2 separate regions of the Homo sapiens genome follow, and region 2 is linked to region 1. Evidence: fine-mapped expression QTL. A gene starts in region 1. The other region holds a variant in brackets. All regions are shown on one strand. Distances are between the middles of the regions.

Region 1 (4,199 bases):
TGGCTGGGCCATGGTGCACAGATATTTGGTGAAACGTTATCCTGGATGCTTCTGTGAAGGTGTTTTTTTGATGAGATTACCATTTAAATCACCAGACTTTGAATACAACAGATTACATTCCATGTATGTCCAACTACAATTCTTTTCTGAGGCTTGCCCGCCTCTTCCCTCAGATTTTGGACTCACTAAAAGTCCACAACTGCATGAGCCATTTCCTTACAATAAATCACTGTCCCTCTCTCTATGTAGTCTCTGTGTATACACACATATCCTGTTTGTTCTGTTTCTCTGGAGAACCCTGATTAATACATATGGTATTCTCAGCTACTTGTGTGCCTAATTGTTATTCATTATTTTATTTGCAGAACTGATCAGTGTGTGACACACTGCAGAAGCCTAATATTTATAGACTTGAGAATATTAATGATCTGACATTAACAGACTTGATAATATTAATAATATGACATTCTTTTTCTCCCTGTAACGAAAGAGTGGTTCATTTTCTTCTTCTCATCTTCATCCATATTTCTGTAAAAGTCCAGCTTGTATGAGGTATGAGGACATAGACAATATCTTTGATAATCATTTTGAGAAAAGAAAAAAGCTCTAATTTATCTCTTTCATTTCTTATAGACAGGCAACTGTTAGAACAATAGAAAATGAAGAAATGGATATGTTGGTTATGGTGGTGGTGGAGGGGAGTAGGGGAAAACTTACCTGTTGTGGTATCAAAAGTTTAGGGAAAGAACATTAATGAGTTACTTCAGGTATGTTAGGGAAAAAGGAAAAAGAATAGGGAGAATTAGTCCTAATGTTTGAACTCACTGCATAAAACAGAGAGAGAGAGAGAGAAAATCAGCTTACTAAAAGGAAAGAAAATATGAGGTTTCTCTTTATGCCAGAGACTGTAAGCACCCAGATAATGGGCTTTAAAAAAAGGAGGAAATGAACTTTACTCAATGAAAAATATTATAATTTTTCTCTAAATTTATTCTACTAATTCATTACATGGTTTGAATGTTCTCATTGTGGTAGTCACTATCCTGTTTTATTTATTATTTCCTAGCCAGGAAAATCAACTTTTTCCTTTGTTTTACACATAATTTGATTTGGCCCTAAGCCTTTGCACAAGCTATATACTTCCTGATTGGAGTATTTGCTCTGATAAACTGTACACTCTTTGTTTTTGTCTCATAGATTTTTATGGTACTTTATGTTCATAAATATGATTCAAATCCTGACTGAAGTAAAGCAAAAAAGAAAAAAGCATTTCAAAGCTGAATCTGTAACAAACTTCTTGAGAACACTGTTCATTACAGCATACATAACGAAAATTTGGTGAATATTATAACCTCTGTTGTTCCAAGTTAATCTACGTCCAACTTTTCCATTTTGTTAGTTTTCACAGCGTCATGCTCTGTCCCCCAGGCTGGGGTGCAGTGGCGCCAGCCATCGTAGCTTATTTCAGTCTCCACCTCTGGGGCTCAAGCGATTCTCCCACCTCATCCTCCCTAGTAGCTGGGACTACGGGTATGCACCATCATGCCCAGCTAATTTTTTTGATTTTTAATAAAGTCAAGGTCTCGCCATGTTGTCCAGGCTGGTCTCGAACTCCTGGGCTCAAGCGATCCCACTGCCTCAGCCTTCCAAAGTGTTGGGACTACAGGCGTAAGCCACCGCGCCCGGCCTTTTTCAGTTTTTTAAACTCTCTTTTGTACACTTACTAAAGGATAAGTTCCTTTCATTAACTTTAACCACAAATTTAGGAACCCGTCAGCACCTCATATTATGCCTATTCTCTGGGGTGTATTAAAAAATATTATTGCTTATTACTCAGCACCCAGAAGAGTACCTGGCACATGGTATGTGGTCACTAAGTATTTGGTGTCTGAAGGAATCATGAGTAACAGGAGTTAAAGTGACATTTATAAAACCAATTCTGAACTATGGAACAAAAAACCCAAATTTAAATTACTAGCAGTTAATTATACCATTCTTAGTTCACGGAGGTAGGCCAATTGAAAACTTTGGACATTTTTAAATTCTGTAAGGTTTAACATTTTTTCTTAGAGGATTCACATATCGTAATCTCATCCAGCACTTCAGTCAAAAAAAAAAAAAAAAAAAAAAGTCACCAGCTCCAAGGTTTTAGTGTGAAACGTTCTTTGGCCAGGATCTAGATAGTACTTTTGCTCACTCAACCGGAGCCCGATCTGGTGCCATTTTCACTTGACCGCCGCTTCGAAACACGTCCCTCCCACCTCTCATCCCAAACCACACACAAAGAAGGAAAGCACAATTTCGACAGGTCTTGGGAAAACTCGACGAGGCCAAGTATGAGGCCACAAGACACCGTTTTTAGTTCCGCGTTCTCCCTCTTCTAATCCTATTAGGTTTTGTCCAGACAACGTTTTGCTCTTTCAGAAGAGAAAGAGCGTTCTGCGCTCGTCGTCTTGGATTCGACAACCATAAGCATCCCGTTAGGGCAACCACCGCAGCAGACTAAGTTCGACTACTTTCTCTCCAAACTCCTCCCGGGCCTTCTTCCCAAGCTCTCTCTTTCTCCTGGAGGCCCCGCCTCGCGGCCCGGCAGCGCGGCACGCGCATGCCCGGTGCTCGCCGCTTGCGCTCTCCCCTGCGGCGCGCCGCCGCCCCGTAGGCCCCACGCGCCGCCCCGCTCCTCCGCCGGATCGTCTGTGGGTGAGTCTCGAGCCAGGAGGCTCTGAGCCAGTGGCGATTGGCTGACGCGGTGGCTGCGCACTCGGCCTGAGAAACTCGGCAAGCGCGCAGTGTCGACTCCCCGGTCTATGCCAGGCGCATCTCAGGTAAACGGTTGGGCAGGGAGGTTTGGGCGACGGAGAATGATAGTGGTGGGCACAGATCAGCCCTGGAGTTTTCGGCCGCAGACTTTTCCTTGGAGAAGGAGAAGGGGCCCCGCGGAATCTGTACTTAGTGAATGCTGACCCCGCGTGGCCGGGAGTGATGGGGCTCTCTCGAAGGTCAGTGTCGTGGGGTCCTCAGGTGGCAGACAGCTCTTTCTGGGTATGGTTTTGGTATTGTCTCCAGTTTCCTAATACTGGACCTGAGCAGCTGAGCATTTATTCAAGGGTGTATTTTTTTTGTTTTTTTCCCCTTAAGTCGCGGTTAGTCAGAAGGTTCCAGTCCTCGCTCAACCTCTGATCGACTCTGTGCCCATGAGAGAGTCGTTTTATATTTCATTTCTCACACGTGGAAGTGTGGGCGAAGAATGAGGGGCTTCTTTAAGCGCGCTAAGCCATGCTGTAAAAAGATACTGTTAGAATTTTTTTTTTTCTTTTTTGATTCACAATGTCCCTGGACCTGGTGCAACGTTTGGGAAGCATTTTAAGCTCTATGGATGGAGGGAACAAGACAGCCGCATTATTAGACAAGGATGGTAGAAAGGAACAACTTTCCACAAACACACGCGTTTGGAAAAGCTCCTTTGAGCATTTTATGCAGGTTAAATCACAGTGGTAGTAGATAGAAATAAGCCAAAACAAAGGGCCAAACAAAACTACATTTCAAGGAGGTGTTCTTTTCTTCCCCAGATAACTTGAATATACTATCACAAATTATTGGCGTTTCAAAGTTTTTCCTTGTGATCTGGTATGGAGTTCATCTAAAATGACAATTACATAATCATTCTATGCAATCGTATGCCAATAAAATTAATTAAAACAGTTTAATTTTTAATGTGAGGAATAGGAATCAAGACATGTCATTGATGGGAGGTAATGATGGCAATCAGCAAAATGAATGGGAGATGTATACAATTTTCCTTCAAAGGAGTAGAGTTTATAGAGATATTTTTATTGCGTTAATATTTAAAGTATAAAGACATACAGAAAAGTGCATGAATCGTAAGTGTACAGCTCGGTGAATTTTCACAAAGTGTAAATACCCATGTATCCAGTATCTAGATCAGGAAAGAGCATTATTGCATCCCGGAAGCCCCACTTCATGGTTCCAAAGGTAATCATTATCTGGACTTCCAACATTATCAATGAATTTCACCTATTATTTACTTTATATAAATGGAGTAATATGGTATTTAGTCCTTAGTTTCTGATTTTTGCTCAATATTTTATTTGTGAGATTTATTCAAGTTATGTAGCAGTTTGTTATTCTCATGCTGTATGTATAGTATTTCTAGTTTTTGGCTATTACCAATAGGGCTG
Region 2 (4,199 bases), 160 kb after region 1:
TATTGATTCTTTCTATCCATGAGCATAGAATGTTCTTCCATTTGTTTGTCTCTTCTTTTATTTCCTTGAGCAGTGGTTTGTAGTTCTTCTTGAAGAGGTCCTTCACATCCCTTGTAAGTTGTATTCCTAGGTATTTTATTCTCTTTGTAGCAATTGTGAATGGGAGTTCACTCATTATTTGGCTCTCTGTTATTGGTGTATAGGAATACTTTTGATTTTTGCACATTGATTTTGTATCCTGAGAATTTGCCTAATTTGCTTATCAACTTAAGGAGATTTTGGACTGAGACGATGGGGTTTTCTAAATATACAATCACGTAATCTGCAAACTTTGACTTCCACTTTTCATAATTGAATATCTTTTATTTCTTTCTCTTGCCCGATTGCCCTGGCCAGAACTTCCAACACTATGTTAAATAGGAGTGGTGAGAGAGGGCATCCTTGTCTTGTGCCGGTTTTCAAAGGGAATGCTTCCAGTTTTTTCCCATTCAGTATAATATTGGCTGTGGGTTTGTCATAAATAGCTCTTATTATTTTGAGATACGTTCCATCAATGTCTAGTTCATTGTGAGTTTTTAGCATGAAGGGCTGTTGAATTTTGTCGAAGGCCTTTTCTGCATCTAATGAGACAATCATGTGGTTTTTGTCATTGGTTCTGTTTATGTGATGTATTATGTTTATTGATTTGCATATGTTGAACCAGCCTTGCATCCCGGGGATGAAGCCGACTTGATCTTGGCGGATAAGCTTTTTGATGTGCTGCTGGATTCGGTTTGCCAGTATTTTATTGAGGATATTCGCATCCATATTGATCAGGGATGTTGGTCTAAAATTCCCTTTTTTTGTTGTGTCTCTGCCACGCTTTGGTATCAGGGTGATGTTGCCTCATAAAATGAATTAGGGAGGATTCCCTCTTTCTCTATTGATTGGAATAGTTTCAGAAGGAATGGTACTATCTCCTCTTCGTACCTCTGGTAGAATTCGGATGTGATCCATCTAGTCCTGGACTTTTTTGTTCAGTAGGCTATTAGTTATTGCCTCAATTTCAGAGCCTGTTATTGGTCTATTCAGAGATTCAAGTTCTTCCTGGTTTAGTCTTGGGAGGGTGTACGTGTCCAGGAATTCATCCATTTCTTCTAGATTTTCTAGTTTATTTGCGTAGAGGTTTTTATAGTATTCTCTGATGGTAGCTTGTATTTGTGTGGGATCGGTGGTGATATCCCCTTTGTCATTTTTTATTGCGTCTGTTTGATTCTTCCCTCTTTTGTTCTTTATTGGTCTTGCTAGCAGTCTATCAATTTTGTTGATCTTTTCAAAAAACCAGCTCCTGGATTCATTGATTTTTTTGAAGGGTTTTTTGTGTCCCTATTTCTTTCAGTTCTGCTCTGATCTTAGTTATTTCTTGCCTTCTGCTAGCTTTTGAATGTGTTTGCTCTTGCTTCTCTAGTTCTTTTAATTGTGATGGTAGGATGTCAATTTTAGATCTTTTCTGCTTTCTCTTGTGGGCATTTAGTGCTATAAATTTCCGCCTACACACTGCATTAAATGTGTCCCAGAGATTCTGTTACGTTGTATCTTTGTTCTCACTGGTTTCAAAGAACATCTTTGTTTCTGCCTTCATTTCATTATTTACCTAGTAGTCATTTAGGAGCAGTTGTTCAGCGTTTATGTAGTTGTGCAGTTTTGAGTGAGTTTCTTAATCCTGAGTTCTAAGTTGATTGCACTGTGGTCTGAGAGACAGTTTGTTGTGATTTCTGTTCTTTTACATATGCTAAGGAATTCTTTACTTCCAATTATGTCGTCAATTTTAGAATAAGTGCAATGTGGTACTGAGAAGAATATGTATTCTGTTGATTTGGGGTGAAGAGTTCTGTAGATGTCTATTAGGTCCCCTTGGTGCAGAGCTGCATTCAAGTCCTGGATATCCTTCTCTCTCTTGGTTAACCTTCTCTCTCATTGATCAGTCTAATATTGACAGTGGGGTGTTAAGGTCTCCCATTACTACTGTGTGGGAGTCTACGTCTCTTTGTAGGTCTCTAAAGACTTGCTTTATGAATCTGGGTGTTCCTGTATTGGGTGCATATATATTTAGGATAGTTAGCTCTCCTTGTTGAATTGTTCCCTTTACCATTATGTGATGGCCTTTTTTGTTTCTCCCTCTCTCTCTTTTTTTTTTTTTTTTTTTTTTTTTTTGCCTCTCTCGCAGTCTGAAGGGCAGTGGCTCGATTTCGGCCCAATGCAAGCT[C/T]CGCCTTCCCCGGGTTCATGCCATTCTCCTGCCTCAGCCTCTCGAGTAGCTGGGACTACAGGCACCCACCCCCATGCCCAGCTAATTTTTTGTATTTTTCGTAGAGTCCGGGTTGCACCATGTTAGCCAGGATGGTCTCAATCTCCTGACCTTGTGATCTGCCCGCCTTGGCCTTTCAAAGTGCTGTTTGTCTCTTTTGACTTTTGTTGGTTTAAAGTCTGTTTTATCAGAGACTAGGATTGCAATGCCTGCTTTTTTTGCTTTCCATTTGCTTGGTAGATCTTCCTCCTTCCCTTTGTTTTGAGCTATGTGTGTCTCTGCATGTGAGATGGGTCTCCTGAACACAGCACACTGATGGGTCTTGACTCTATCCAATTTGCCAGTCTGTGTCCTTTAATTGGGGCATTTAGCTCATTTACATTTAAGGTTAATATTGTTATGTGTGAATATGATCCTGTCATTATGATGTTAGCTGGTTAATTTGCCCGTTAATTGATGCAGTTTCTTCATAGCATCAATGGTCTTTACAATTTGGCATGTTTTTGCAGTGGCTAGTACTGGTTGTTCCTTTCTATATTTAGTGCTTCCTTCAGGAGCTCTTGTAAGGCAGGCCTGGTGGTGGCAAAATCTCTCAGCATTTGGTTGTCTGTAAAGGATTATTTCTCCTTCACTTATGAAGCTTAGTTTGGCTGGATATGAAATTCTGGGTTGAAAATTCTTTTCTTTAAGAATGTTGAATATTGACCCCCACTCTCTTCTGGCTTGTAGGGTTTCTGCCGATAGATGCACTGTTAGTCTGATGGGCTTCCCTTTGTGGGTAACCTGACCTTTCTCTCTGGCTGCACTTAACATTTTTTCCTTTATTTCAACCTTGGTGAATCTGACAATTACGTGTCTTGGGGTTGCTCTTCTCAAGCAGTATCTTTGTGGTGCTCTCTGTATTTCCTGAATTTGAATGTTGGTCTGCCTTGCTAGGTTGGGGAAGTTCTCCTGGATAATATCCTGAAGAGTGTTTTCCAACTTGGTTTCATTCTCCCCGTCACTTTCCGGTACACCAATCAAATGTAGATTTGGTCTTTTCACATGGTCCCATATTTCTTGGAGGCTTTGTTTGTTTCTTTTTACTCTTTTTTCTCTAAACTTCTCCCCTCGCTATATTTCATTAATTTGATCTTCTATCACTGATACCCTTTCTTCCACTTGATTGAATCGGCTATTGAAGCTTGTGCATGTGTCACGACATTCTTGTGCCATGGTTTTCAGCTCTGTCAGGTCATTTAAGGTCTTCTCTACACTGTTTATTCTAGTTAGTTGTTCGTCCAACCTTTTTTCAAGATTTTTAGATTCCTTGCCATGGGTTAGAACATGCTTCTTTAGCTTGGAGAAGTTTGTTACTACTGACCTTCTGAAGCCTACTTCTGTCAGTTTGTCAAAGTCATTCTGCATCTAGCTTTGTTTCATTGCTGGTGAGGAGCTGCGATCCTTTGGAGAAGAAGAGGCACTCTGGTTTTTAGAATTTTCAGCTTTTCTGCTCTGGTTTCTCCCCATCTTTATGTATTTATCTACCTTTGGTCTCTGATGTTTTTGACCTACAGTTGGGGTTTTGGTGTAGGTGTCCTTTTTGTGGATGTTGAAACTATTCCTTTCTGTTTCTTAGTTTTTCTTCTAACAGTCAGGTCCCTCAGCTGCAGGTCCATTGGAGTTTGCTGGAGGTCCACTCCAGACCCTGTTTGCCTGCGTATCACCAGTGGAGGCTGCAGAACAGTAAATATTGCAGAACAGCAAATATTGCTGTCTGTTCCTTTTTCTGGAAGCTTCATCCCAGAGGGGCATCCACCTGTATGAGGTGTCTGTCGGCCCCAGTGGGAGGTGTCTTCCAGTTAGGCTACATGATTGTCAGGGACCTACTTGAGGAGGCAGTCTGTCCATTCTCAAAGCTCAAATGCCGTGCTGG

Direction of the effects. Alleles are on the strand shown, and positions count from the first base shown. SD is a standard deviation of normalised expression in the study named.
For the expression in thyroid of the gene that starts at base 2,658 in region 1, allele T in region 2 goes with a higher level than allele C (large effect, 1.1 SD a copy in GTEx).

Evidence for each region. PIP is the estimated chance that this variant, and not a neighbour inherited with it, causes the effect.
Region 2: its variant is the best candidate, but not a certain one, in a credible set for the expression of MIPOL1 in thyroid (GTEx, PIP 0.67).

The regions. Positions count from the first base shown.
Region 1 is chr14:37,195,280-37,199,478 of GRCh38, forward strand. MIPOL1 (mirror-image polydactyly 1) reads left to right here and starts at 2,658. Exons shown (of 13, transcript NM_001388067.1): 1 at 2,658-2,825.
Region 2 is chr14:37,359,445-37,363,643 of GRCh38, forward strand. All of the region lies in intron 9 of MIPOL1 (mirror-image polydactyly 1), which reads left to right. Among named protein-coding and RNA genes, the nearest start is that of MIPOL1, 160 kb to the left of the region's middle. The variant C/T (reference allele first, on the strand shown) is at 2,246.